Homo sapiens: one gene and its partners. The protein of the gene in region 1 purifies or fractionates together with the protein of each later gene. This does not show direct contact. Each region holds a gene or a part of one and is shown in the gene's direction. Other genes may lie near its edges. The genes, in order: POLR1E, CCDC138, RPAP2, HDX, CRCP, RPRD1A and IFT81.

Region 1 (4,177 bases):
ACAGGTAAAGAACTTGGTAGTGTTGAAGGCTCTGGACTGGGAAAGAGGAGCCTGGGATTCCCATCCAGCTGTGCTGCTGATTGACTGAGTGGCTGGGTAACTCTGCGCATCACTGACCCCCAGCCTCCCCCTCTGTACAGTGAAGATTGTCCAGCCTGAACTGTATCACTCTCGGGGGCTGGCATGATGCAGACAGGGCCCTGTGATGGTACCCAACAATGAACTACAAACTAGGCCCTTTCTGAGCCCCGGTGGACCATACTCCAATAGAGGAGAGGTCAGATGGGTGTATAGGTGCTGAGAACTATTAACCCTGCACTCTCCCCTCTCAGAGATGCCCTAGTTCCAATTGGTCTCCTCCCCGTTTACTTGATTTTGCCTCCATAAAACTGTTGTGCCATAAATTGTAGTGTAATTCTAGGTTCGTACACCCCAAAAGAGTTTTCCATTACACTACCGCAGTGAGCCCAAATGTGATCAACTATCAGAATCACCTAGTAGCTTTTTTTTTTTTCCCAGAACCACCTCATATCCTCCCATCCCATCCTATCCTTTCCTATTCCCTCTCTATGCAGAGAATTGCTGTGGGGTAGGGGTAGGGGAGATTATTGTTACCCATGAGTAGATGATGCATTCCTCAGGTGTGTGGGCAGAGAGAAGGTTGAGAACTTTTGAACAGGAAACAGGGCCAGGTGCAGTGGCTCACGCCTGTAATCCCAGCACTTTGGGAGGCTGATAGGGTCAGATCACCTGAGGTCAGGAGTTCGAGACCAGCCTGGACAACATGGTGAAACCCATCTTTATTAAAAATGCAAAAATTAGCCGGGGATGGTGGCGTGCGCCTGTAATCCCAGCTACTCAGCAGGCTGAGACAGGAGAATTGCTTGAACCCGGGAGGTGGAGGTTGCAGTGAGCCGAGATCATGCCACTCCACTCCAGCCTGGGTGACAGCAAGACTCTGTCTCAAAAAAAAAAAAAAGAAAGCTGTACAAATAATGCTTTTGAATAATCCATTGTTATTTGTATTATTTCTTCTTTATTCAGGCACTTTGTGGGAATTTTGAACAAGACCTCTGGCCAAATGGAAGTATATGATGCTGAATTGTTCAACATGCAGCCACTATTTTCAGGTAGGTCCCAGTCATGAAAGCTGACAGAAATAATGCATAGTTTGGGTTTGCTGGATGAGTTGGCTTGAGTTTTAGATTTATAAAACACATTTTATAGTTATTTTAATTTATTTATTCTGTTTTTTCTGCTTTGTCTGTGTTGAGAAAATGGTTTTTTATATACACACTGTTTTTTGTTTTTTGTTTTTTTTGAGATGCAGTCCCACTCTGTCACCCAGGCTAGAGTGCAGTGGTGTGATATTGGCTCGCTGCAACTTCCACCTCCCGGGTTCAAGTGATTCTCCTACCTCAGCCTCCCGAGTAGCTGGGATTACAGGTGCACATCACCACACCCGGCTAATTTTTGTATTTTTAATAGAGACAGCGTTTTACCATGTTGGCCAGGCTGGTCTCAAACTCTTGACCTCAGGTGATCCACCTGCCTCGGCCTCCCAAAGTGCTAGGATTACAGGCGCTAGCCACTGCGCCCGGCCTAGAGTTTTTTATTCAGCACACACTTATTGATAACCTAATGTACCAGGCACCAAGCTGGGGCTGTGGATGTGGCAGTAAGCAAGACAGACACAGATCCTGTCCCCATAGTGTTTAGAGACTTGAGGTCAGAGGTTCATAAAAGCAATCTGAGCAATGATCAGAGCAGAATATTAGAGGACATGTCTGATATAAAATCTTTTCCATAAAAGAACTTCCTTCATTCTTTTTATTTTTATTTTTTATTTTTGTAAATTACTTTATTTCTTCCTTGATCATTTCAAGGGACTATCTTCAAACCAGTACAAATATTTCATACGTAATACCTGGCCATTTTCTAAACAATCGAGGAGTTTGTTGCACAATAAGCTACCTCACGTCTTTCAGCAAGAAATACATTAAATTTGAAGAGTAAAGACATTACATAATGAACTAGGACATAATTAAAATTTGCCTTAAATATTTCTTTGGGGGAGAGAACACCACACTTCTACTCAATGAAGAGAAACATTTTTACAGTCCAGAGGTCTTTCATTTTTTAAACACCTGTCACGCCATGAATTCATAGGGAATAGGTTCCAGCAGCTCAGGCTGCTTCCCATTGGTTCTCACCAAGTGTGCTTCTCTGGGTGGAGCAGGCTGGCGCTTCAGTTGAACCCAGGTACCTTTCTCTTTTGCTTCTGTCTTTTTCTAATCATCTTTCTTCACCCGTTTCATGAAGCTTTCTCGGCTCTTAGAGTGCTTAATGTGCTCAATACGCACACTAATTCTCTTGGCAAGAATCTTGCCCTTGTTTGTTTACAACAATGCCAGCAGCATGCTAAACTGTAGACGCTTCCAGTTTAGCCATGGTAACACTTGAGGGGCATTCCTTTTTGAACAGTACCCATTCCCTTGATGTCTACGATATCACCTTTCTTATAGATTCACATATATGTGGCCAAAGGAACAACTCCATGTTTTCTAAAAGGTCTAGAGAACATATATTGGGTGCCTCTCCTCTTTCCCTTTGTGTTTGTCATTTTGATGAATTACTGCAAGATGGCAGTTCTGGCCGAAAGGGTTCTTTCTTAATTCTTAACTGTTATAGTTGGGGTAAAGAGGTTTTAGAATTTCTGGTAGACAAAGGAAATTGCTTATTAAGTTGTATAGTAACTTTCACGTTGAGGACAAGTCTCTACACTAATTTGAGGAAGATCTATTTTTTTTCCCTAATCCAGTGGAAGAATTTACATTGTTTCTCTGCTTTGTCATCTTAGAATGCTCAGGGCTAGAGTGAGATCTTCCAAAATAATAAATAAAAGGGTCACACTCAAGGGGCTTCTGTTCCTTAAATCTCAGAACTTGAATCCTTAGTGATGCCCTTAAATACTGGGAACCATGGCAGGATAGGGCGATAGACAAGAAAGAAACATTGGGAGCATTGTGAATCTGCCTGATACCTCAGAGGCATTAGTTCCAGTTTTATTCTCTCAAAGCAGTGCTTCCATCCCTTTTGAGAATCTGCTAAGGACCTGGACCTACTTCTGAGAAACATATATGATACACAAATACATATATATGGGATTTTTTTTAATATGGGATTTTATACATAATTTTTTTTTTTTTTTGAGACCCAGTCTCGCTTTGTCACCCAGGCTGGAGTGTAGTGGTGCAATCTGGGCTCACAGAAGACTCTGCCTCCCGGGTTCTAGCGATTTTCCTGCCTCAGCCTCTTGAGTAGCTGGGGTTATAGGTGTGCGCTACCACACTCGGCTAATTTTTGTATTTTTAGTAGAGATGGGGTTTCACCATGTTGGCCAGGCTGGTCTCAAACTCGTGGCCTCAAGTGATTCACCCACCTTGGTCTCTCAAAGTGCTAGTATTACAGGTGTGAGCCACCGTGCCTAGCCAAATTTTACACGTAATTTTAAAGGTCTCTTGAGTCCGGACACCCATCTGTGAATTTCCTAGGTGTCCCCCTGCTTTGCAAACATATATAACTATATTTAAATCATCTTCCAACTGTTCTTGTAAAATCCAGGGAGGCAAGGAAAATTGTAATTTAACGTGTTGATTAAACATATTTTTGTTGTTATATGTAAGAAGTTTGTAAATATGAGTTTATTCTAGGTAGCACACACACAGAGATAACATTTAAGTCCTTACTATATGCTAGTCACTGTTCTAAGCACTTTCCATGCATATACCAACCTTCTGGAGTAAGTACTGTTGTTCTTTTTTTACCAGTGATGAAACTGGCACAGAGGTTAGATGACCTTATCAGGGGTGATGGCTGAGATAACAGGCAAGGCCACTCCAGAGCTTGTACTGTTGTGTACTAAGTTATACTGCCCTTATTTGAGTACTTTGTAGATGATTGGAGAGCATCGGTAAGTACCACATACCTCATGTTTATGCCTGCTTTTAGGTCTTTCACCAAGAAAGCAAAATTATTTTCTGGAAAGAGCCAAGGACTTGTTTTCTAATCCTGTCTCTGCCACTACCTGGTGAACTGACCTGGGGCAAGTAATTTCATCTGTGGGCCTTCTGTTTTTTAATTTCTAAAATGAAGAGGTTGGGCTGGATGACCGCTT
Region 2 (4,177 bases), on another chromosome or scaffold:
ACAAGTCTTTACTGCAGTTATTATAACTATATCCCTGTGTTCAAGAAGGTAAAGGAAAACATGAGCCTGGTAAGGGGATACATGGAAGATACGGGATAAAAAGACTTCAATCAGATTTCTGCAAATGAAAAACCCAGTGCCTGAAATTTAAAAATACACTGGAGAGAATTAGACACTGCAGACAAACGACTAGTGAACTGGGATACATAGCAATAGAAACTGTCCAAAATGAATTACACAGAGAAAAAAAATCTACAAAAAAGAAAACAGAACATCAGTGAGTTTTGAGACAAAATCATATATTCTAATATTATGTACTTAGAGTCTATGAAGAGGGGAGACAAAAACTATTTCAAGACATAATGGCTCCAAATTTTTGAAATATGGTGAAAACTATAAACACACAAATCCAAGGAGCATGTCCAGCTGAGCTCATGGTCACTCCTATTCCCTTTTCCTTAGCCTCCTCTAGATACATGTGTGCCATCCCTTTCCTCCACACCCTGGCCACTGGATTTCAGGAATACTGCCTCCCATGGTGACTCTCCATGACCTTTTCAGTGGCTTCATCACCTCTCCCTAGACCACAGACAGGCCCTGACACGTCTCCCTGCCTTCACTCTCTAGTCTCCCTTCACACTTGTTGTGAACGATTCTTTCTCACAAGGTTCCTGCCTAACAGATACCCTTTAAAGCTGCAGGCTCCTCAGCCTGGTGGCCTCAAAAAAGAAAAAGAAAAAAAAATCTGACACTAATCACTGTGGAACAAGGAAGAGATACAAGAGTTCTCCCTTTCCTTATAGTCTGGCCTCTCCCAGCCTAGGCACAAGGGTTTCTTATGAGCCCAAACCTGTGGGGTTCCAGTGTTCATCTACTACCTGGGGCCAAGGTACATGCTGCTGCCATCAAGAAAGAAGCCTGAATGCTGATGAGTCTCAGGGAGAAGAGCACTTTCTGACTGCAGGTGTTCTCTCCAGTAGCTGCAGGCAGGTGGGGTGTGCCTGCACACAAGACCTGGGGCTAGGAGGGTTCAACAGGATGCATGGGCCAGTGAATACAAGTGTAAAAGGGGCCTTTGTCCTGGCCAAATCCCAGCACATGCCAGCACCTAGGAAGAAATGTCAGAGCCAGATGGTCCTCGGAACTACTGTCAGACACTGTCATGATACAGCTATTTATCCTTTATCGTTAAATATACTGAAAAAAATTCTGGGAGAACTAAACATTTAAACATAAGAAAAACTCTTAAATCCTAAGAGTAGACTTAACTCTAGTAAGAAGATGTTTCCTATTTATAAAATAGGAACATCAGTTTCAAATTTGATAAATTTAGTAGAAAATGAGAAAGTAGGCAAATGTGTTGGGTAATAGGCAGATGCATTGGATACTACACATAATATTAACTGCTTAATCCAGATATATATAGATCTATGAAGATAATACCTAGTTATATTGAATAGACTGTTCATATAAGAATCAGCATATATAATACTTGGCGAGTTTTTTTTGTTTTGTTTTGTTTTGTTTTTGGAGACAGAGTTTCACCCTGTCGCCCAGGCTGGAGTGCAGTGGCACGATCTTGGCTCACTGCAGCCTCTGCTTCCCAGGTTCAAGCGATTCTCCTGCCTCAGCCTCCTGAGTAGCTGGGATTACAGGCACGCACCACCACACCCTGCTAATTTTTTCTATCTTTAGTAGACACGGGGTTTCACCATGTTCGCCAGGCTGGTCTCGAACTCCTGACCTCATGATCTGCCCGCCTCAACCTCCCAAAGTGCTGGGATTACAGGCGTGAGCCACTGCGCCTGGCCAGTTGGTGAGTTTTGACACCACAGTGCTGTCTAGGGAAAACTCTTTAACTGTGTTTTTTCTCTACTCCCACATGACAATAATCATCCACACAGAAGAAGACTTCTGTGACAAAATGTGTGGAGGTTTTTCCCCACATACCAAGCAGCAGACACAAGCTGCTCCAATTCACTTCTGACACGATCCACCTGGAGATAGTGTCAGATCCCACAAGTTGGGCACTCAAGTCTCCAAGGCTGCCTCGTGCCACACCAGTTGCAAGTCCGGCCCTCTGGAACTTCTGACCAACTGGCTTCAAATTGGGGTTCCTACAACCCCCTCTTTGGGTTTAATTTGCTGGAGTAGCTCATAGAACTCAGCGAAACACTTAACCAGTTTATTATAAAGGATATTGCAAATGATGTAGATGAAGAGAGAGACAGAGCAAGGTATAGGGGAAGGGGCATGGAACTTCTGTCCCCTCCCTGGAGCACCACGCTCCAGAAATCTCCATATGTCCAGCCGTCTGGAAGCTCTCTGAACCCATTTCTCTGGGGTGTTTTGTTTTTTGTTGTTTGTTTGTTTGTTTTTGAGATGGAGTTTTGCTCTTGTTGCCCAGGCTGGAGTGCAATGGCGTGATCTTGGCTTGCTGCAACCTCTGCCTCCCAGGTTCAAGCAATTCTCCTGCCTCAGCCTCCCGAGTAGCTGGGCTTACAGGTGCCTGCCACCATGCCCAGCTAATTTTTGTACTTTTAGTAGAGATGGGGTTTCACCACATTGGCCAGGCTGGTGTTGAACTCCTGAATTCAGGTGATCCGCCCACCTCAGCCTCCCAAAAGTGCTGATATTACAGGCGTGAGCCACCGCGCCCGGCCTTTCTCTTGGGTTTTTATGGAGGCTTCCTGACATCACAATTCTGTCCACCAGGATATAGGGCTGGACTCTCTCTGGGGAGGATGTTAAGACCCACAATCAGAAAGTCCAGGAAAGATTAGAGTCCTGGCTTGGGCCAAGTGAAAGGAGGGCAGGAGAAGGTCAGAGACCTTCCCCTGAGGCCTAACACACCCAACATCATAACAAAGACTAATGAGACGAAAACCTATATATATATATCATAACACCACAGATACTAAGCTCTTTATACCTTATCTCTGAATACTATTATCCTCATATTAGTGATGAGGTTTACAAAGGTAGATAATTGTGCCAAAACGATACAATCTGCATTTGACAGAGCCTAATTTAGCCTCTATCAATTGCTGAAGCCTACCTTCTTAAGCCTATTTTATGACTACCTAAGAGCATGTACTTCCTGAGATAACCAAAGAAATAAACACCTACATAGCACTTACTATGTTATAGGCCGAGCACTTTATATATATTAACTCATTTAATCCTCACAACAGTTCATGAGATGTCAATATTATTATTGTAATTTTACAAATGAGGAAATTGAGGCATAAAAAAGTTTAGCTGCACACAATCAGTATGTGATGCTCAATCTCTGAAATAAAATTTAACTGTAAGATACAACTCTTCTTTATGGAAAGAAAGGAACACTTGTACACTGTTTGTGGGAGTGTAAATTAGTTCAGCCATTGTGGAAGACAGTGTGGCATTTCCTCAAAGACCTAAAGACAAATGCCATTCAACCCAACAATCCCATTACTGGGTATATACCCAAACTAATAGAAATTGTTCTATTATAAGGACACATGCATGTGTTGTGTTCATTGCAGCACTGTTCACAATAGCAAAGTCACGGAATCAACCCAAATGCCCATCGAAGATAACCTGGATAAAGAAAATGTGGTACATATACACTATGGAATACTATGCAGCCATTAAAAAGAATGAGATTATGTCCTTTGCAGGGACATGGATGGACTTGGAGGCCGTTATCCTTAACAGACTAATGCAGGAACAGAAAATCAAATAACACATGTTCTCATTTATAAGTGGGAGCTAAATGATGAGAACACATGGATACATAAGGGGAACAACACACACTGGGGCCTATCAGAGGGTGGGAGGAGGGACAGGATCAGGAAAAATAACTAATGGGTACTAGTCTTAATACCTGGGTGATGAAATAATCTGTACAACAAACTCCTATGACACAAGTGTACCTGTGTAACAAACCTGCACAGGTACCCCTGAACTAAAATAAAATAAAAAAACCCAACCATTACAGAAGTAAAATGAGCAAATATAATGTGTCACTGAGAGGATATAGGCACAATTTTGTTTGTATCAAAGTTAATATTTTTGAAATGCATTCTGCTCACAAACATCACCAAAATACATCATAACCTTTCGTGAGATCTACCTTAAGAAATAATTGCAAAAGTAAAAATGTTCCAAGGTGTTAATATGCTGTTTGTAATAA
Region 3 (4,177 bases), on another chromosome or scaffold:
AGTATTGGTTTATGATTATAATACATTACTGTGATGATGAATAAATTCAGCACTATTTTATTTGCTTATTGACCACTTGGATAATCTCTTAGGTCAGGTCTGCAGATCTCTCAGCCATGGATACCAGCACCTGCTCTGGTGGAGATGGCAGGGGGGTGAAATGGATTCTGTGAGGATCCTTGCTTTTGGTTGTTTAATGTACTATTTTTGTGCTGGTTAGCCTCCTGCCAGAAGGTGGCACTTTCAAGAGAGCATCAGTTGTGGTAGTATAGGGAGGATCAGGCTGTGGGTAGGGCCGTAGAACTCCCAAGAATATATGCCCTTTGTCTTCAGCTACCGGAGTGGGTAGGGAAGGACCGTCATGGGGGCAGGGCTATGTGCGTCTGAACTCAAGACTCCTTGGGCAGGGCTTGCTGTGGCTGTTGTGGGGGATGGGAGTGTGGTTCCCAGGTCAGTGGAGCTATTCCAGGAAGATTATGGCTGCCTCTGCTGTGTCATGCAGGTTGTCAGGGAAGTGGGGGAAAGCTGGTGGCAGGCCTCACCCAGCTCCCATGCAACCCAAAAGACCAGTTTCACTCCCACCATGTCCCTTCAAACAGCACCAAGTTTGTTTACAGGCAGTGGGCAGGAAGGGCTGAGAACTTGCCCCAGGCTACCAGCCTCTCACCTGTGAGAACAAGTAGGGCTTTCACATCTCCCAGCCTGTGGAGTCTGCACACCAGATTCACACCCTCCCTTGAGTTCTGGCCAGGAGACTTCCTGTTCATTTGGAATTGTTACAAAGTTCAGCTGGCCTATCATATGGTCTATCTCGGAGACTGTTCCATGTGCTGATGAATAGAATGTATATCCTGCTGTTGTTGGGTAGAATGTTCTGTAAATATCTGTTAAATCCATTTGTTCTAGGGTATAATCAAAATTATATCAAATATTCTCTCAGACCACAGTGGAATTTTTTAATTTCTACTTAGATTTCATTGTTGACCTAGTGATCATTCAGGAACAGGTCTTGATGACCTGTCTAGTGCTGTCAGTGGAGTACTGAAGTCCCCCACTATTATTGTGTTGCTTTCTATCTCATTTCCTAGGTCTCGTAGTAACTGTTTTATAAATTTGGGAGCTCCAGGTTTAGATGCATATTTATTTAGGATTGTCATATTTTCCTATTGGACTAGTCCTTTTATCATTGTATAATGTCCCTCTTTGTCTTTTTAAACTGCTGTTGCTTTAAAGTTTGTTTTGTCTGATATAAGAATAGCTACTTCTCACTTTTGGTGTCCATTTGCATGGAATATGTTTTTCCACCCTTTACCTTAAGTTTATGTGAATCCTTATGTGTCAGGTGAGTCCCTTGAAAAGCAGATACTTGGTTGGTGAATTCGTATTAATTTTGCCATTCTGTATTTTTTAAGTGGAGCATTTAGGCCATTTACATTCAATGTTAGTATTGAGATGTGAGGTACTATTCTATTCATCGTGCTATTTGTTGCCTGAACAGCTTTTTTTTTTTCATTGTCTTATTGTTTTATAGGTCCTGTGAGATTTATGCTTTAAAGAGATTCTATTTTGGTATTATTTCCAGGATTTGTTTCAAGATTTATCGCTCCTTTAGCAGTTCTTGTAGTGCTGACTTGGTAGTGGTGAATTCTCTCAGAATTTGTTTGTCTGAAAAAGACTATCTTTCCTTCATTTATGAACCTTAGTTTCGCTGGATACAAAATTCTTGGCTGACAGTTGTTTTGTTTAAGGAGGCTAAAGATAGGACTCCAATGTCTTCTAGCTTATAGGGTTTCTGCTGAGAAATCTGCTGTTAATCTGATAGGCTTTCCTTTATAAGTTATCTGATGCTTTTGCCTCACTGCTCTTAAGATTCTTTCCTTCATCTTGACTTTCGATAACCTGATGACTATGTGCCGGGGCAATGATCTTTTTATGATGAGTTTCCCAGGTGTTCTTTGAGCTTCTTGTATTTGGATGTGTAGGTCTCTAGCAAGGCTGGAGAAGTTTTCCTTGATTATTCCCTCAAATATGTTTTCCAAACTTTTAGATTTCTCTTCTTTCTCAGGAACACCAATTATTCTTAGGTTTGTTTGTTTGACATAATCCCAAACTTCTTGGAGCCTTTGTTCATTTTTTAAATTCTTTTTTCTTTGTTGGACTGGGTTAATTCAAAAGCCTTGTCTTGAAGCTCTGAAGTTCTTCTACTTGCTCAATTTTATTGCTGAGACTTTCCAGTGCATTTGCATTTCTCTAAGTATGTCCTTCATTTCCCAAAGTTGTGATAGTTTTTTATTTATGCTATCTATTTCACTGGAGATTTTTCCATTCATATCCTGTATGATTTGTTTGATTTCTTTAAGTTGGGCCTCACCTTTCTCTGGTGCCTCCTTGATTAGCTTAATAATTGACCTTCTGAATCCTTTTTCTGGCAATTCTGAGATTTTGTCTTGGTTTGGATCCATTGCTGGTGAGCTAGTATGATGTTTTGGGTTGTTAAAGATCCTTGTTTTGTCATATTACTAGAATTGTTTTTCTGGTTCCTTCTCATTTGGGTAGACTGTGAGAAGGAAGATCTGGGACTCAAGGGCTGCTGTTTAGATTCTTTTGTCCCACAGGGTGCTCCCTTGATTTGGTGCTCTCCTCCTTCCCCTAGGGATGGGGCTTCCTGAGAGCCAAACTGCAGTGATTGTTATTGTTCTTGTGGATCTAGCCACCCAGCAGAGCTACCAGGCTTCTGGCGGGTACTAGGGAGTGTCTGCAAAGGGTCCTGTGATGTGATCCGTCTTCAGCTGTGGATACCAGCACCTGCTCCAGTGGAGGTACAGGGGAGTGAAGTGGACTCTGTGAGGGTCCTTAATTGTATTTTTTTTAAGTGCGCTGGTTTTGTGTTGGTTGGCCTTCAGCCAGGAGGTGGTGCTTTCAAGAGTGCATCAGCTGCAGTAGGATAGGGAGGATACAAGCTTGCTCTGGGGTCAGGCAGTGGGTAGGGCCATAGAGCTCCCAAGAGATTAAGTCCTTTGTCTTCGGCTACCAGGGCCAGTAGAGAAAGACCATCAGGTGGGGGTACCATTGTGTGATTCCCAGGCCAATGGAGTTATGTTCCCAGGTGGATTATGGCTGACTCTGCTGCATCACACAGGTCACTAGGGAAGTGGGGGAAAGCTGGCAACCACAGGCCTCACCCAGCTTCCACACAGCCTGCAGCCTAAAAGGCCAGACTCACTCCCACCGTGCCCCCACAACAGCACCAAGTTTATTTCCAGGCAGCTGATGAGCAGGGCTGAGAACTTGCCCCAGGCTACAGGCCTCCCAGCTGAGAAAGCAAGCTGACTCACAGTTCCTTGCCTTTTCTGGTATGTTTCTGCGGTAGTTCTTGGAGCAAAAGTTCATGATGGGAGTCTCCACATGCCGCTCTGTCTGACCAAGTGGGAACTGCAAGTTAGTCCTGCCTCCTATCTGCTATTTTTTCCCAGACCTAACATTTATTTTTAATATTAAACCAACTTTGCATTCTTATAATAAACTCAACTTGATTGAGCTATAATAGCCTTTTTATATAATACTGGATTTGGTCCTCCTAATATTTGCCTTAGAATTTTTGCACATATTTTCAGAATGAGTGACATTAGCGTATGAATTGGTCATGGTCTCATCATAAATCACATGGTACAAATTAAGTAATCTGAGGAAAGTTTAATTATAGGACTGTTTTCCAAAGCGTGAAAATGTGGTCAGAATGAAGGAAACCAAAGGAATGATACACTAATCATAGTTTGAGAGCCCTCACCACCCCTAGACCTCAAGGAAAAAGGTAGGAGTGGACCACAAGGTCTTGTACCAAGGAAGTGCTGCTTGTAGTGGACCAAGTGGGAATGACTCTTCTGCACCGTCCAGTTTCTTATTCTTCATTGGCAAAACTGAGATAAAAGCCAGAGAGCAAGGAAGCCCATTGATGCAGCCCATACAGATCAGCCTTCTGAAGTACAAAGACAGGTGGAAAAGGGTGAAAATTGTTCAGAATGAAGATACCTTGCACTGCCTATAATTTTCCTTTCTTGTAATATCGTTATCAGGTTTTGGTTGTAATCATTTGGTAAAACAAGTTGGGAAATGTTCCCTCCATTTCTGGAAGAATGTGTCTAAAATTAATGTTAGTTCTTTAAATGTTTAGAAGATC
Region 4 (4,177 bases), on another chromosome or scaffold:
GTGGCTCTTGTTTTGAAAGTCATAGCATGGTTGTGAATTGAGAGTTATATGGCCAAGTAACTAGCAAGTTTCTGTGCCTCTTGACATCTAGGAATAGTACACAGACCCCATTTTATTTTCTAATTCTAACTTCATTCCTGGTTTGGTTCTTTTCCCAAGACCAATAACAAATGTAATTAATGTGCATTTTTATTTTTCTCTTCCTCTTCTTTCCCTCTGATTAAAGACTAATAAATTAGTATATGGACAAAAGTTGGTTGAAAGAGAACATGATTCAAAAATTGTAGTGAACTTCATAGCCAGTATAATCAGCACCAAATAGAAACTACTAATTTGTATAATTAAGAATGAGTATAATGAATCTTAGAATATGGTCACAAAATATAGAAGACACGAATAGTAGTCCAAAAAAGTTATCTAGGTAATCGCTTAAACTACTGATCTTTACATCATGAAATATTTATAGGTTTATTTCTGGAAGGAGTTAATTTTTATTCTACCTAATAAAAGACAACCACATGTCACTGGTTTTTAATTTTAAAAAAGATCTTCAGTTTTCTTCCATTAATCTTGATTTGTGTAAGTTGAGTCAGATGTGTGGTCCACAGAATATTTTGGACCATTGAAGTAGTCCAGGGTTTACAAAATGTGATACTCTCTGACTGAAACACTAGATTACCCAAAGATTTTGTTGTTGTTGTTATTTAAATCAATAGCCACTTTAAAATCAAAGTAATATTTTCAGCATTATACTTAGTCATTTGCTATGGTCTTGCTTCCCCTGATAATTCACTGCGTGTTCCTAGCCAGATCAATTGCGTTTCTTGAACTTCAATTTCTCCACTTTGCAAGTGGGATAAGAATGATTAATACTACAGAACTTGATATTCATACCATAGGGTCTAGAATAAGTGTTATAGATCTGAGCATATGGAAAATGCTTTAATCTCTTGGGAAAAATGACCGTAGGTCAGACCCTGAGGATAGTTGTCATTTATGAAACATTTGTAATAAAGAAAGTTAATCGTATTCACGTTAGTATCTGTGAAAAAGGCAGTTCCAACAATTGTTATAATCCAAAGATTTTTTTCAGTTGCAAATCTAGTAAGATATTGAAAGAAGAATTTTAAAGTGGACCACATGTATTAGTTGTGCCCTATGCTGCCTCAGATATTAAAATTTTTATATTTTTTACTGCACTCATTTTACTCAACTACTTATAATGCAGTAACAAAGAAATAAATAATAATGCTTCTTTGATTTGTAATCTCCCCACTAGAAATTAGAAATTAGAATATCATGAAATCTTATTCTCTTGACTTTCTGACTCTAAGAACATGTTCAGTCAATGTTAATTTGAACACTTTCTCCTCTTTAATATGGCATCTTCAGAATTGCAAAGCGAGTTAAATCCAGTGATGTATGTCATATAGACTGATCAGCCAATGTCAGAAAAGACCCCATTGCACTGGGACTGGGTTAGTGGTAAAACACTTTTCTAGGAGAAAATGGCTCCGTGTCCTATTACTGCAATCTAGCCACTTAGAAAGCAGGCATTACCTTTAAGTTAGTTTACTGTGTATATACTCTCAGTTCCAGCAATAAATTAATGAGAAATTCAATTTTATAAAATAAATAATAACAGCTAGTCTGCCAGATAGGGGTTAGTCTTCCCTTACATAGCCTGATAAAAATGAGAATGTTTTGATCTTGCCCCTGTGCTACAAGGCAGGAAGTATAGGATTTGCAGCTGCCACTTATTTTAATAAAGAGAATGAGTGCATACTGTCTTATTTCAACAGTGGATTTCATATATTCTCCAACATGCCCTTTCTGTTCCTTAATTGGCTAGTGACAAGCTTTCATTTCTTCCTGTTCCCTTGGTCTTTATTTACCACTGCACCCAAAGCCCACATTACAAGTAATACTGTCTAAAAATTGCCAGATATGCTACATTATTCTTAGTATTGGAAGCAGCAAATCAATCATTAAGTTCAAAGTTCCTCATGGTCAAGTGAACATTAGCATTGTCAGCTGCGTAAAACTTGATTAATCATTTATTTCTTTAGAATGGGTGCATGTTCTACAACTTCAGATAAAACAATTAGACCATGACAAAGCTTATTTCATCATTATTGGATTATCCTTATTACTCAAGCAGAGAAATGAGTAGCCCTCCAGATACATCATTACTACAGATAGATCCACTGATTCAGCTGTGCCCTGGTGGGTGCTTGGCCATCTGTAGGTATGAACATAGCCTTAGGAAAGAAAAAATAAAATTACTTGGTCTTTTCAAGTTGTTAAAATTTAGTCTAAAGTAAAATAGCTGGAGGTTTTTCCTAACTACTAAGTTCTTTCTCCCACTGAAGAACAAAATAGTCTTTTGTTAAATGCAGTCTTCTACAAAGGACAGCATAACTGGCATGAATATTTTAACAAAGAACGCAATTTTAAATCCCTTAAACAGTGATCAATGCACACTCAAAACTAGTATGAAAATCACTAACCTCAAACACTTCAAAGCACTTGGTTCAGAAGAGTTGCTCATTTCCCTCCTAATATCCCCTTTGTACAGGTTCTACTCTACAGAATTCACACTTTCAACATCTAGAATTTTGTTACCTTCTGAATAATGTATGAAGAATTTTTCTTTTAGGTAAGGCATTGTCTAAGATCCTGAAATATAAATTATTCTTTAAATCCATAAGGATAATTCACCATGGGAGGACTACAACTATTAATATAAATTGGAAAACAATCTATCCACATACTAATCCAAAAATATTATTTTTTTTATTCAGGCACTGCTGTCAGATTTACCTCCTGAATTAGAGGAAATGGATTTCAATCATGCCTCACTGGAGCCTGATGATACCTCATTCAGTGTATCTTCTTTGTCAGAGAAAAATGTCTCAGAAAGTTTGTGATTTCAGTTGGAGGGAATATATGATACAGTCTTTTGGCTTCGTAACAGGTGTGCATTTCAAGATAACTGCATTCTGTTGCCCTGGTATTCTTTAGTTGGGAAAACACATTGTTGAAACGGACGTATTCTGTGAAGAATGTACAAGATATAATGGCTACAGTGCAACAAAAATGTAGGTGAAATTTAAAAGCATTGTTTGAGAGAGTATTTTTTTAACTGATGGAACTCTGGAAAAAAATTATATTTAAGTTTCAGCAGTTTAACCCTGAAATTCATTATGTCTAATTTCTAACCAGAGACAAAATAACTAAAGACATTTCAGCATTGCTTATCAAGTTGCTACAGCTTGATTAGTCTTGTTTTTGTAGCCATTACATCTTCTTTCTTCTTCTCTCCTTTTCCTATCATCCACTTACACTTTTTCTCAGGAAAGTGGACTGAACATTTAAAACAAAACTTTAAAAAATTATTTAACTCATTATTTAATGAGTTCTCTGATTTAGTTTTTAACCCCTATGAAAATTTGACTTAAACTAATGACTGAAAATTAAATGATTACAGGTATGTAATTGTAAATTGCTGGTGTTCTTCTATTATCTAACCCAAATATTTGTGTGGGGGTGGGGAAGCACAATGGAAAGGTAATTTAACCAACATAACGTCAAATAAATTACGAAGTGTACAGAAACAAAATGTTGTCAAAATTAGTCTTGATGGGGATTCTTCATTACTACAAATGACAAGTATTGATACGATTGACATTCCAGTAGTAAATTTGTATACCTGGGTTAGATGAAGTGTTACACAAATATTTTAAATTTATCACCATCTTTATAATTCTTTTTTAGTTCTTACATGTTATGAAACAGGAAGTCAAGGTAAGCTGCTGAGATTTTTTAAAAATTTAGTCATTCAGCTTTGCCACAAAATTTACCTCATTTCCATATGAGGCCTGTACAGAGCCATCAGCCAAGGATAGTATTCAAAAAGAGTTATACTACTTTGGTTGTAAATCACAGTCTTCTGAATTCCATGAATACTATTCTATGAGTACACACCTAAAATGGGCAAGCTACCCAGTTTTCTATTATTAGTAGGTACCAGATGGCAACACACTGTAGACTGTTCTTTGTAGTTCTTCCTTTCTGGAGTACCAGATGGTATTACCAAGACCCATAGAAGAAAAAATGTCAGTTTCTCCCTAAGCCCACAGTGTCATATATTTGTGACTTGGCAGTGTGCAATTGT
Region 5 (4,177 bases), on another chromosome or scaffold:
TCATTTTACATTAGAGAAAGTTGAAATTTAGAAAGCCAGATTCAGTGAACTGTTCTGGATCAAATATTTAATAGTATACATTGTTGCTATCAGATCTTTGAATCATTTTGAGGAAAGTAGGACTTTAGGTTTGGCGACTTCAAGTTGCCATTTTTGGAGGTCGGCAACCCGGTTTGATGCTCCTGGGATTGAGATAATAAATGTATCATTTATGTTAACCCAGCTGTTGATACTTTGGATTTTTAAGTTTTATTTCCCCTTATGTTCTCAACTACCTGAAATGGTTGGTATCTGAGAACCTTGAGATGGTGCTTTGAACTTTACTTCTTTATTTGGACTGTTTCTCCTGTGTTGGAAAGAAAAGGTGAAAGGCCGGACACAGTGATTCATGTCTATAACCCCAGCACTTTGAGAGGGTGATGTGAGAGGATCACTTGAGCCCAGGAGTTCAAGACCAGCCTGGGCAACCCCATCTCTACAAAAAATAATAAAAAATAATTAGCTGGACATGGTGGCACATAGCTATAGTCCCAGCTACTTGGAAGGCTGAGGCAGGAGGATTGCTTGAGCCCAGGAGTTTGAGACTGCAGTAAGTGATGATTGCGCCCAAAGAATAAAGCAGGGAAAGGAGGGAAATAGCCAAGATTTGATTATTTAACCTGGAGAAAAGATGATCTCCGTTTGAGAAAATAATGTGCAGAAAAGAATTTTGCTAAGTTCACTAACGGCCGGAGCTTTTATCAACATCCAATCCTCCTTAATTACAGTCAAGACCTTTTTTTTCAACCTAAGGTTCCCAGTCACAGGAAGAAACCCTAAGCTGCATTAAACTAAATGAAATATAAACAAAAAAGAAACTTTCAGAAATAAAAAACTTACTAGCACGTCTTGGATCACTAGGATAAATGACAATGACTACATTATCCCTCACCCCCACCTTTTTTTTCCCCAAAGAGAGTGGGTCTTACTCTGTCACCCAGGCTGGAGTGCAGTGGCACGATCTTGGCTTACTACAACCTCTGCCTCCTGGGTTCACACCATTCTCCTGCCTCAGCCTCCCGTGTAGCTGGGACTACAGGCGCACGCTGCCACGCCCAGCTAATTTTTTGTATTTTTAGTAGAGACGGGGTTTCACTGTGTTAGCCAGGATGGTCTCGATCTCCTGACCTTGTGATCCGCCCACCTCAGCCTCCCAAAGTGCTGGGATTACAGGCGTGAGCCACCGCACCCGGCCCCATGTCTGATTTTAAAAATGGGTTTTTGGCCGGGCGCGGTGGCTAACTCCTGTAATCCCAGCACTTTGGGAGGCCGAGGTGAGTGGATCGCCTGAGGTCAGGAGTTCGAGACCAGACTAACCAACATGGAGAAACTCTGTCTTTACTAAAAATACAAAATTATCTGGGTGTGGTGGTGCATGCCTGTAATCCCAGCTGCTAGGGAGCCAAGGTCATGCCATTGCACTCCAGCCTGGGCAACAAGAGTGAAGGGGGGGAGTTGAAGATTGTTTCTTTCTCAGAAGAGAATTTACATTTTCCTGAGCCATGGAATCTTTAGAAAATGGTCATTTTATTTCACAGCATCATAGGGAGTAGCCCCCATTGATTCACTCAGGATCTCCCCCATCCTGGGACACCAGGATTATTATCTAGTTGCAGAAACACTTTTGGGCTGAAGTGAGTGGAGAGACCAGGGTTTTGCCAGGAGTTCGTGGTGTGACCTTGGGCGTGTCACATGACTTCCTGAACTGTGCTGTTGTCTGTAAAGGGAGGTGGTCAGACTGGGATCCTCTCCAGGATTGCAGGCCTGTCTTATTATCTTGTTTTACTTCAGTCTGCCAGGATTTCTTTCTGGAACTCCCTGTGGTCCCAGTTGCCGGATTTCAGAGATTGCTGTGGGGAATGCCATGGAATAGAATCTGGCCACCTTGAGCTGAGAAAGGTGTTTGTGATTGATGGTTGATGCCACCAAGCAAACAGGGTTAAGCAACTTGACTGCCTGCCTGCTGCTTTTAAAAAGGCAGCTGACGACCTAATTCTGTTTAGAATTAGGGGCGAAGCTAAGGAAACTGGCTCAGGCTGTGAGTATCATCTCTAGATTCAGATTTCTGGGACCACATCAGAAACCAGGTTTTATGTGGACCTTTGATGGGCAGTGTGGTGTGCAACGTGGGGGACTGTGGGTTTTAGACTGGGCAGTTCTGGCTGGGGATTCCAGTTCTACCCCTTAGCAGCATTGTTGGGAGGACGAAAGGAAATGCCGGATGGGAAGTGCAAGATGCAGCTCCAGACACATGGGAGGCCTCCCTGCAGGGCTGTTGCTAGTGGGAGTGAGGATTAGAAGAAGGCTCCAAACCATTTGGCACATAGTGGGCATCATCAACCGTGTTGCTGATACAGTTCATTAAATTACAGATGTGTGCCTGGCACAGTGGCTCACGCCTGTAATCCCAGCACTTTGGGAGGCCAAGGTGGGTGGATCACAAGCTCAAGAGATTGAGACCATCCTGGCCAACATGGTGAAACCCCGTCTCTACGAAAAATACGAACAGTTAACTGTCTGTGGTGGCTCGTGCCTGTAGTCCCAGCTATTCGGGAGGCTGAGGCAGGAGAATTGCTTGAACCTGAGAGGCGGAGGTTGCAGTGAGCCGAGATTGTGCCACTGCACTCCAGCCTGGCGACAGAGCAAGACTCTGTCCTGCCCCCCCAAAAAAAAAATTACAGATGTGCTTGTGAAATATAAAAGTACATAAAGTGCCATTTAACTTCTTCGAGATGCATATGCAACCTGTTCACCACTTCTCTCTGTGTGTGTGTGTGTGTGTGTGTGTGTGTGTGTGTGTGTGTGTGGTTATATAACTTAGCTTTTTCCTTTTTTTCTTTTCTTTTTTTTTTTTTTTTTTTAGACAAAGTCTTGCTCTGTCACCCAGGCTGGAGTGCTTGGCTCGACCTCCTGGGCTCAAGTGATCCTCCCACCTCAGCCCCCCAAGTAGCTGGGACTATTGGCACACACCACCATGCTTGGTTGATTTTTTTTGTTTGTTTTTAAGAGATGGGGTTCCTCTGTGCTTCCCAGGCTGGGGGTTTTCCTTTTCTTTAAAGAAAAATGCTATCCTACAACTTGGTTTTTACTGACCCATTTTGATCAGTCGCATTGGCTCAGTCCAGGATGTGACTTGGCTCCACCCTTCCGTCTGTAAGATGGAGAGGACTCACGAGGACCCAGGCTGTGAGGTCTGTGTGCCAGGAGGCCGGGCTGAGACCATGAGCACAGTGGGCAGGGCTGCCCAAGGCTGTAAGTTTCATTTGTAACCCTGGAGGATTTTCTTTCCTTCTGCAGATGGTGGAAGAGAGTGAAGAGCGGCTCACGGAGGAGCAGATTGAAGCTCTTCTCCACACCGTCACCAGCATTCTGCCTGCAGAGCCAGAGGCTGAGCAGAAGAAGAATACAAACAGCAATGTGGCAATGGACGAAGAGGACCCAGCATAGAAGAGCACAGCTGGCCCCGGCGTTTCATGAAGTCAGAAGGCCTGGCAGCCATTTCCTGGACGTTGAGAGGATTGTTTATTTGATTTTTATCCTCATCCCAGCAGGCCTGGCTTTGTGGTTAGTTGGGTACATCACAAAAATAAGTTAAAAAGAAATATTTGTGCCTTGGGGAGAAGAAACATGGTGAAAACAGGCTGAGGTTGTCAGGGCAGAGAGCTGAAGGTGGGGACAGTGACCGCGGACCCCTCTGTGCTTGAAAGATTTCCTCCACGGCCTTTGCCCCAGTTGTGGGGAGGTCTCTGTGCACAGCGGGGAAAATGCTTGTGTCGCCTTTGGTGGGCCATGTCCTAATTAGTTTCATCTGCTTCCCTGGGAACTTACTAAGGGGCCCAGAGCACTGTTGGAAGTCTGGTTAGAGTCCCCAGAGAGTTACTCTAAGTTAAAATGAGCCACTGACCTTGGCTCACCTTAGAGGAATTTCCTCGAGAACAACAGAGATAAGAAAAGAACCGGCCTGGCCAATCCTTCAACAGCTCTAGAGCCCCTTTTCTCTGCTGGCAGGGGCTTTGTTTACCAGCTCACTGTTTAGGCTAAATGTTAGGGACCAGATCACTGCAGTTGAAAACGGGCACTCCAGGCTTAGTGACAGTGGCAGCAGAAACAGTGTTGGCTGCCTTTCTGACCACCCCAC
Region 6 (4,177 bases), on another chromosome or scaffold:
TATTGTGAAGAGTGAAAGAACAAATCTTCAACAGCAGGGAAGTGGACGCAAGCGGGTTGTTGCTGCTGGTTTGGGTGGCCTGCTTTTATTCTCTTATCTGGCCCCAGCCACGTCCTGCTGATTGGTCCATTTTACAGAGAGCTGATTGGTCCGTTTTGACAGAGTGCTGATTGGTGCGTTTTATGATCCTTTAGCGAGACACACAGCACTGATTGTTGCATTTACAAACTTTTAGCTAGACACAGAGTGCTGATTGGTGTGTTTACAAACCTCTAGCTAGGCACAGAGCACTGATTGGTGCGTTTACAAACCTTGAGCTAGACACAGAGTGGTGATTGGTGCGTTTACAATCCTTTAGCTAGACAGAAAAGTTTTCCAAGTCCCCACCTGACCCAGAAGCCCAGCTGGCTTCACCTCTCAATGGCACTCGCCGCGGGACTTTGCGGCACCTAGCTTGGGCACTCTAGCAGCCCAGAGGGAGCTCGTCCCCCATCAAGCCCAGCAGGCACCCACCCGGAACCGCGCGTAGCCCAGGCTCCTGCCGGCGCCTCTCTCTCTACACCTCCCTGAGAGCAGATGGAGCCGGCTCCGGCCTCTGCCAGCCGCAGAGAGGGGCTCCCACAGTGCAGCAGCGGGCTGAAGGGCTCCTTGAGCACGGCCAGAGCAGACGCCGAGGCCGAGGAGGCGCCGAGAGCGAGCAAGGGCTGCTAGGACGTTGTCACCTCTCAATAGGAGAAAGCTATCTAATATTTAATGTATTTAAGAAAATGGTGCAAATGTGGTAAAATTGTAAGATGTGCTTTTAGCAAGGTTTGTGATGTTTCCATATGTTTAAGTGTTTCATAAGTGGAAAACGTTAAAGCATATAAAAAGATGCTTTAGGAGGAGGGTGGTAGTGATGATAGTGTTGATAGTAACGGTGATGCTGATGAACATACCGCTGCCGCTTTAATCCTCATATTAGCCTGGGCTACTCTGCCAAGGGTTTCCTTTTCTTGACAGATGACTGCTTTTGCAGGGTGTAGCCTTTGTGTCCTTCCCCTTTCCTGCAGTTTTGCTCATCAACTTCAGGATTCTCATCTCCTGTAGTTTAATGATAATGGCAATCAGTTACTGAGTACCAGACATTCTTTTAGTTATTTTACCATATCTTGAATCACATTATTTCTGCAGAATAATTATGAAAGGAATCGATCAATCTTGAAAGTATATTACAACAAACTAAAGAAAATTAGTTGAACATTTTGTGTTAAGCTAGGCATTCTTTAGTTTCTCAAAGTGTGTAAAGACAAAAATGTGAGAGTGGGAGAAGCTACTGTTTAAAATAAAAGAATGAGCTGGGTACTGTGGCTCATGCCTGTAATCCCAGCACTTTAGGAGGCTGAGGGAAGTGGATTGCCAGAGCTCAGGTGTTCGAGACCAGCGTGGTCAACATGGCAAAACCCTGTCTCTACAGAAAATACCAAAATTAGCTGGGCATGATGGCGCAGGCCTAAGGAGGCTGAGGTTGGGGGGTCACTTGAGCCCAAGAGGTTTAGGCTGCAGTGAGCCAAGTGCGCCACTGCACTCCAACCTGGGCGACAGAGCAAGGCCCTGTCTCAGAAAACAAACAAACAAAAAAATATAAGAATGAATAAGTAAAATTATATATGTTAGATAATGGTAGCCATTCAGTTATGAAGGTTTCCCTTCTTTTCCTACCTTCCTTATCTTTGTCTCCTTTAAAGAAAGAGTTTCTGTTTGGAGGGATAAACTTCAAGGCCTTTGTGAAGACCAAAATGGCATACAATTTTCCTGATAAATGCAGTAAAGTGTAACCAAAAATGTAAGTGACCATTTTGTTACTTCTTTATTAAGATGTAATTCACATACCACACCTTTTATCCATTCAAAGTATACTATTCAGTGGTTTTTGATATGTTTATAGAATTGTAAAGCTACCACCAGTTTTAGAACATTTTTATTACCCAGAAAGAAACTCCATGCCATTTAGCTGTTGTCCCCAGTCCCCCATCTCTCCCAACCCTAGGCAACTGCTAATTTACTTTGCCTCTATAGATTGGACTATTTTTACCATTTCATATGAATAGAATTATATAGTATGTGGTCTTTTGTGTGTTTTCCATCCATGCTATAACATGGATGAGCCTGGAAAACATGTTAATTAAAAGAAGCCAGTTGCAAAAGACCACTTACTGTCCTTCAGTCTTTTCTATGGCCGAATAGAATATTGTATGAATTTAGCCATTCATCAGTTGATAGACGTTCGAGTTGTTTCCGCTTTTTGGCTATTATAAATAATGCTGCTGTGAGCACTCCTGTACAAGCTTTTTTTTTTTGTGGATATGTTTTCATCTTGGATACTTACTGAGGAGTGGAATTTCTGGGTCATATGGGAATCCTATGTTCAACCTTTTGAGGATCCACCAGGCTATTTTCCACAGTGGGTACATGTTTTTTTTTTTTTTTTTTTTTTTTTGAGACGGAGTCTCGCTCTGTCGCCCAGGCCGGACTGCGGACTGCAGTGGCGCAATCTCGGCTCACTGCAAGCTCCGCTTCCCGGGTTCACGCCATTCTCCTGCCTCAGCCTCCGGAGTAGCTGGGACTACAGGCGCCCGCCACCGCGCCCGGCTAATTTTTTGTATTTTTAGTAGAGACGGGGTTTCACCTTGTTAGCCAGGATGGTCTCGATCTCCTGACCTCATGATCCACCCGCCTCGGCCTCCCAAAGTGCTGGGATTACAGGCGTGAGCCACCGCGCCCGGCCATGTTTTTAAAATACATTCCTACAAGCAGTGTATGAGGGTCCAGTTTTTCTACATCCTTGCTAATATTTGTTATCTTTTTGATTACAGCTGTCCTAGTGGGTATGAAGTGGTATCTCATGATTTTGATATGCATTTCCCAGATGACTAATGACACTGAGCCTATTTTCATGTACTTATTGGCCATTTGGATGTTGTCTGGAGAAATGTCTATTCTGCCTATTTTAAAATTTGTCTTTTTATGATTGAGTTGTAAGTGTTCCCAATGTATTCTAGGTACAAGTATTGTATTAGATTCATACCACAAATATTTTCTTCCATTCAGTGGGTTGTCTTTTTACTTTCTTAATAGTGTCCTTTGAAGGTGACTGTTTTAAACTGTAAATGTCTCAGTCAATACTAGGCTAAATTTTAAAACTTAATATACATCATTAATTTATATTCATTTCTGTAGAAATATTGACCATGAACATACCTGAACTTAGAAACCAACACTAACATTTGGGCTCTTTTCTACACACACTCGCTGAAAGATCTCTATAAGAGCTGTACAAAACAAGATAGATAGGAGGAAATTCTTTGTAGTTGGTGAAGGTCACTGCCTTCCCTAGTCTAGTGATTGTATCCTTTGTACCAGCCTCTTTTATGTTATATTGGTGTCTTAACAAAACTGTAAGTGCCTCAACCCCTTAAAGTATGTTTACTCACCCTGTATTTATTGATTGTGTATTACAATGGTAAAGAAAACAAAGGGAAAACAGTTTATCCCTGCCCTCAGAATTTATAGTCTTGTGGTAAGGGCAACCAATAAACAAAAAATTTTAAATATAAATTTCGTGTTTAGTTCTTTGAAGGAGGAAATCTTTAGTTAGAGGGAAATCATCTCTGCAAGGTGACGTTTAATAAAAGACCTCTTTGAACAAGTTGCGGGGGTAGGGGGGCTTGGGCCTGCAGCCACTGGGAATATGTGAAAGTGCTGAGGTGATACATAGCTTTGGATGCAAAGAGCCAAACCTGGAAATGGTCAGCCTTTGAATGCCTGTTAACTTTGTTTCCTAAATTTTTTTTTTTTTATGAGACAGTGTCTCACTATGTTGCCGAGGCTGCTCTTGAACTCTTGGGCTCAGGTGATCTTCCTGCCTCAGCCTCCCGAGTAGCTGGGACTACAGGTGCACACTACCATGCTGGGCTTATTTTTTCTAGGGTTGGCAACAATTAAAATAATACATTATTTAAGGTTTAGATTTTCCTCCTATTTGTAATCATTTGTTGAAATCATCACTTTTTCAATAAGCTATGTTAGATATCTTTCAGGGAACTAATTACCATTTTATATTGTATTATAGGTTGGGGGGTTACATATTGGTTGTGAAGTAGATAGTGGGCTCCTTCAGGTTGTTTACCTATTTCAA
Region 7 (4,177 bases), on another chromosome or scaffold:
AATATAAACTGGACATCCATAGACCTCCTCAGGCCAACTGAGTTTCCCCCCTTCTATACCACCATCTCCTCCTTTAAAGAACAATGAAATCAGTGATTAGTAATTTTTGTACATTGCAACTGTAAACAAATGTAAATGATAATAAGATTTAAAATATATACATACTAACATCAGTTGTATTCATAAAGTTAAAGGTTTCAAACACACATGGTTATGAAGCAAATTAAATTTAATATTTCTGACACAGACAGTGCCCACATCCTGTCTTTGGTTCTTTAAATAACTTTTATAGGTTGTTAGGATTTTTTGACAAGGAAATTATTCCAATGATATAAGAAAAGTTACAGGTTAAGTAGTGCCTTAATTTAAAATCGTGTGCAGAAGTCTTAAAATTCTTGGTCTGCCTTAATGGCCTTTCTAAATACTTTTTAGTTTATAAGGATAAAATATTTGTTGTAAGATACATTATTTGTAACATAAACTTAAATAGATGTATTAATATGCCAGGTATTGCATCAAAAAATTTACTGGTTATATTTATATTTTTAAAATTCTGTGTTGTTTTCTATTCCTGTTTGCTGTTAACTTTGCTTTCATTATGCATAGCTGGGTGGGCAGTATTTAATGGGTGGTTTGACTCTGGTCCTCAGCTTAGTTAATCCTCTTATTTAGGCAAGTACCAACTACCAGCATTCTCATTTGTGTCTCAGATCAACTAGTATATTGACCGTATGTTAAAAGAGGAAAGGATGAGGTTGTTCCTTTGCACTCTGCCTCTGTGTCTCTGCTTGCTTTTCTGTCCCTCTTGGTGATTTTCTCACACTCGGTGTCGGTACAGATATTTCCAACACACTGCATTTCGTTCTATGTGCACTTTCACCTTCTCTACCAAAATGTCAACTGTAGTTGTCTCTAGCACATGGGATTATGAATGAATTCCTTTCTTTTCTTTTTCTTCTCTTCTTCTTCTTCTTCTTTTTTTTTTTTTTTTTTTTTTTTTTTTTGAGACAGTCTCACTCGTCACCTGGGCTGGAGTGTAATGGCATGGTCACAGCTCACTGCAGCCTTGAGTTCCCAGGCTCAAGTGATCTTCTTGCCTCGGCCTCCTGAGTAGCTGGGACCACAGGCATGTGCCACCATACACAACTAATTAAAAAAAAATTTTTTTTTTGTAGAGACAGGGGCGTCTCACTTTGTTGCCCAGGCTGGATTCTCTCTCTCTTTTTTCCTACCGTGTCACTTATTGTCTCTGACTTTGTGTCTACTCTTGCTTTCAGTCACCCTTCCTCAATTTGCCATAATATAGAACTAAAGTATATTTTTGTAATTTATTGAAGATTCTTTTATTCCTGTTTAAAATTTTAGAGTCAATGAGTAAAACAGTTTTGGCAGGTGGACCATCTAAGATGTTAGTAACAAAAACAATTCTAAGAAGGATTTTGGCTTATTTAATAGTGTACTATTTTCGTAATCACTGGGCCTGCTCTCTGAAGTATATGTGCATACAATTTGATTTATTTGGACATAAATAGAGTATACACTGTTTCAGGATAAGATAGAATATAACATTTAATAACAAGGATATATATAATACATGATAATTTATCAAGTATTTCAATATCTATTATGTCACTTGAAAACATAATCTTACCAAGTAAATACTTTTATTTTCCCCTATTATTAGCCTTGGTTTGGTTGTTTTGTTTTGTTTTGTTTTGTTTTGTTTTTAAGAGACAGGATCTCGCTCTGTTGCCCAGGCTGGAGTGCAGTGGTGAGAGCATAGCTCACTGCAGCCTCAAATTCCTGGCTCAAGTGACCCTTCCACCTCAGCCTCCCAACTAGCTAGGACTACAGGCATGTGCCACCACCATGCCCAGATAATTTTTTAATTTTTATTTTTGTAGAGACAGAGTATCATGTTACCCAGGCAGGCCTTGAACTCCCCAGCTCAAGCAATCCTCCTGCCTTGGCCTCCCAAAGTGCTGGAATTACAGGTGTGAGTCACCGTGCCCAGCCCCCAGCCTCCTATTATTCACCTTAATTTTTTTTTTTTTCCAGAGACGGAATCTCACTCTGTTGCCCAGGCTGGAGTGCAGTGGCACAATCTTGGCTCACTCTGCCTTCCAGGTTCAAGCAATTCTCCTGCCTCAGCCTTCTGAGTAGCTGGAATTACAGGCACATGCCACCATGTCCGGCTAATTTTTGTATTTCATATTTTTGTATTTTTAGTACAGATGGGATTTCACCATGTTGGCCAGGCTGGTCTCGAACTCCTGACTTCAGGTGATCTGCCCACCTATATAGCATGAGTCCTGTTTTCCACTTGAAACTCCAAGCATACCTGACATATAACAGGTGCTTCATAATTATATCTTGAATAAATAAGTATTAGGTTTTAGTATATAGAATATACTGATCCTGTTGGTTTCTTGAGAAATTTTTATGTAAATGGAAATTCTAAAACAAAATGTGGACATTTCTCAGGCTTAGGCTAATAAATGAATTATTTTAAAGCTATATGAGCTATAACTGTACATTCTTGAGTAATATGTCATGTATATCCTCCTAGCTGGTTTTTGTTGGAGAACTAGAAAGGCAAGCAGTTTGACTTAGAGTCTCATAGTGGCACGACTGCAGCTCATTGCAACCTCCACCTCCCAGATTGAAGCCATTCTCCTGTCTCAGCCTCCTGAGTAGCAGGGACTACAGGCACACGCCACCATGCCCTGCTAATTTTTGTATTTTTAGTAGAGATAGGGTTTCACCTTGTTGATCAGGCTGGTCTCGAACTCCTAACCTCAAGTGATCTATCCGCCTCAGCCTCCCAAAGTGCTGGGATTACAGTCGTGAGCCACCATGCCTGGTCTATTAACCTTAATTGATAATTGAGAAAACTGAAGTCCCAAGAAATTAAGTGCCTTGCTTACCACTAGAGGAGACAAAACCAGATTAAAACCGAAGTCTTCTGACTTCCAAACTCTACATTCTTCTTTTCACACCATGATACTGTTCCACTTTCCTAACTATCTTTTTCTCTCACTTCCTTTTATAGTTTTGTGTAGTTTTTTTTGTTTGTTTGTTTTTGTTTTTTGTATTTTCTTTGAGACAGAGTCTTGCTCTGTTGCCAAGCTGGAGTGTAGTGGCGTGATCTCGGCTCACTGCAAACTCCGCCTCCCAGGTTCAAGCGATTCTCCTGCCTCAGCCTCCCGAGTAGCTGGGACTACAGGCGCGTGCCCCCATGCCTGGCTAATTTTTTTTTGTATTTTTTTGGAGAACTAGAAAGGCAAACAGTTTGACTTAGTGTTGGATTTAGTAGAGCTCTTGATCTCCTGACCTCATGATCTGCCCACCTCAGCCTCCCAAAGTGCTAGGTTTACAGACATGAGCCACCTCGTCTGGCCTTAGTTAACTTTTATAATCTTAGTTTTGGTACATTATAGAGTATGTGGTTTAGCTAACTATTTTTTATCTACTGTAGAAAACATACCATATTCCTCCGACTATAGCAATAGAAATAAACCCCTGTAACTGAGATTTAATTATTCTTGTTTTTTTTTAATGATAGAAACTTCGGGAAAAACAAAAAGTTATACGAGAAAGTCATGGTCCAAATATGAAACAAGCAAAAATGTGGCGTGATTTGGAACAATTAATGGAATGTAAGAAACAGTGCTTTCTGAAACAACAAAGCCAAACTTCCATTGGTCAGGTAATTCAGGAGGGTGGGGAGGACCGGCTAATACTGTGAATTCTTGTGTCATCGTTTGGGGTTTTACTTGATACCACTAGCTATAAGCCTAATCTCATAATGTATTTCTTTTTTGAAACTGATTTGTATAGCATTTTGTTTTCAGAAGAGCCATTCTTTATTAAGTTTTCATAGAAAATAATGTTAAGGTAGATTTAGTTTGAATGTTTTTTCATATGAAAAAGAGGCTTTTATTCTTTTCCATAGTTTAGACATCACTGGCGTCTTCTGAGTTTTATGAGACAGGAAACTAAGTTTACTATCTGTAAATGTAAACATATGTCCATTAAGAAACATGTAGTTTTTTTTTAGAATGTAATAACCCAGTGGCTTACTGTTTTTCTTAATCTCTTTTAAAAAAACTTTAGAAGAATCTTTTAGGAACTAATATCTCTTGTTCTGAAGAAACATTTATCTGACGTTCAGCAG

What was found.
Region 2: the proteins of POLR1E (region 1) and CCDC138 purify together in Homo sapiens (affinity purification with mass spectrometry; one large-scale study listed by BioGRID and IntAct). This does not show direct contact.
Region 3: the proteins of POLR1E (region 1) and RPAP2 purify together in Homo sapiens (affinity purification with mass spectrometry, with the first as the bait; one large-scale study listed by BioGRID). This does not show direct contact.
Region 4: the proteins of POLR1E (region 1) and HDX purify together in Homo sapiens (co-immunoprecipitation; one large-scale study listed by IntAct). This does not show direct contact.
Region 5: the proteins of POLR1E (region 1) and CRCP purify together in Homo sapiens (affinity purification with mass spectrometry, with the first as the bait; one large-scale study listed by BioGRID). This does not show direct contact.
Region 6: the proteins of POLR1E (region 1) and RPRD1A purify together in Homo sapiens (affinity purification with mass spectrometry, with the first as the bait; one large-scale study listed by BioGRID). This does not show direct contact.
Region 7: the proteins of POLR1E (region 1) and IFT81 purify together in Homo sapiens (affinity purification with mass spectrometry; one large-scale study listed by BioGRID and IntAct). This does not show direct contact.

What each region holds. Positions count from the first base shown.
Region 1 is NC_000009.12:37,488,271-37,492,447, forward strand, and holds part of POLR1E (DNA-directed RNA polymerase I subunit RPA49), read left to right. Parts: intron 1-1,044; coding exon 1,045-1,130; intron 1,131-4,011; coding exon of another isoform or gene 4,012-4,105; intron 4,106-4,177. UniProt on the Homo sapiens protein: Component of RNA polymerase I (Pol I), a DNA-dependent RNA polymerase which synthesizes ribosomal RNA precursors using the four ribonucleoside triphosphates as substrates.
Region 2 is NC_000002.12:108,848,940-108,853,116, forward strand, and holds part of CCDC138 (coiled-coil domain-containing protein 138), read left to right. Parts: intron 1-1,695; coding exon of another isoform or gene 1,696-1,751; exon of another isoform or gene 1,752-4,177.
Region 3 is NC_000001.11:92,326,217-92,330,393, forward strand, and holds part of RPAP2 (putative RNA polymerase II subunit B1 CTD phosphatase RPAP2), read left to right. Parts: intron 1-4,177.
Region 4 is NC_000023.11:84,320,642-84,324,818, reverse strand, and holds part of HDX (highly divergent homeobox), read left to right. Parts: intron 1-2,804; coding exon 2,805-2,930; 3' UTR 2,931-4,177.
Region 5 is NC_000007.14:66,148,872-66,153,048, forward strand, and holds part of CRCP (DNA-directed RNA polymerase III subunit RPC9), read left to right. Parts: intron 1-3,336; coding exon 3,337-3,486; 3' UTR 3,487-4,177. UniProt on the Homo sapiens protein: DNA-dependent RNA polymerase catalyzes the transcription of DNA into RNA using the four ribonucleoside triphosphates as substrates.
Region 6 is NC_000018.10:36,060,626-36,064,802, reverse strand, and holds part of RPRD1A (regulation of nuclear pre-mRNA domain-containing protein 1A), read left to right. Parts: intron 1-4,177. UniProt on the Homo sapiens protein: Interacts with phosphorylated C-terminal heptapeptide repeat domain (CTD) of the largest RNA polymerase II subunit POLR2A, and participates in dephosphorylation of the CTD by RPAP2.
Region 7 is NC_000012.12:110,214,479-110,218,655, forward strand, and holds part of IFT81 (intraflagellar transport protein 81 homolog), read left to right. Parts: intron 1-3,565; coding exon 3,566-3,748; 3' UTR 3,749-4,177. UniProt on the Homo sapiens protein: Component of the intraflagellar transport (IFT) complex B: together with IFT74, forms a tubulin-binding module that specifically mediates transport of tubulin within the cilium. Binds tubulin via its CH (calponin-homology)-like region.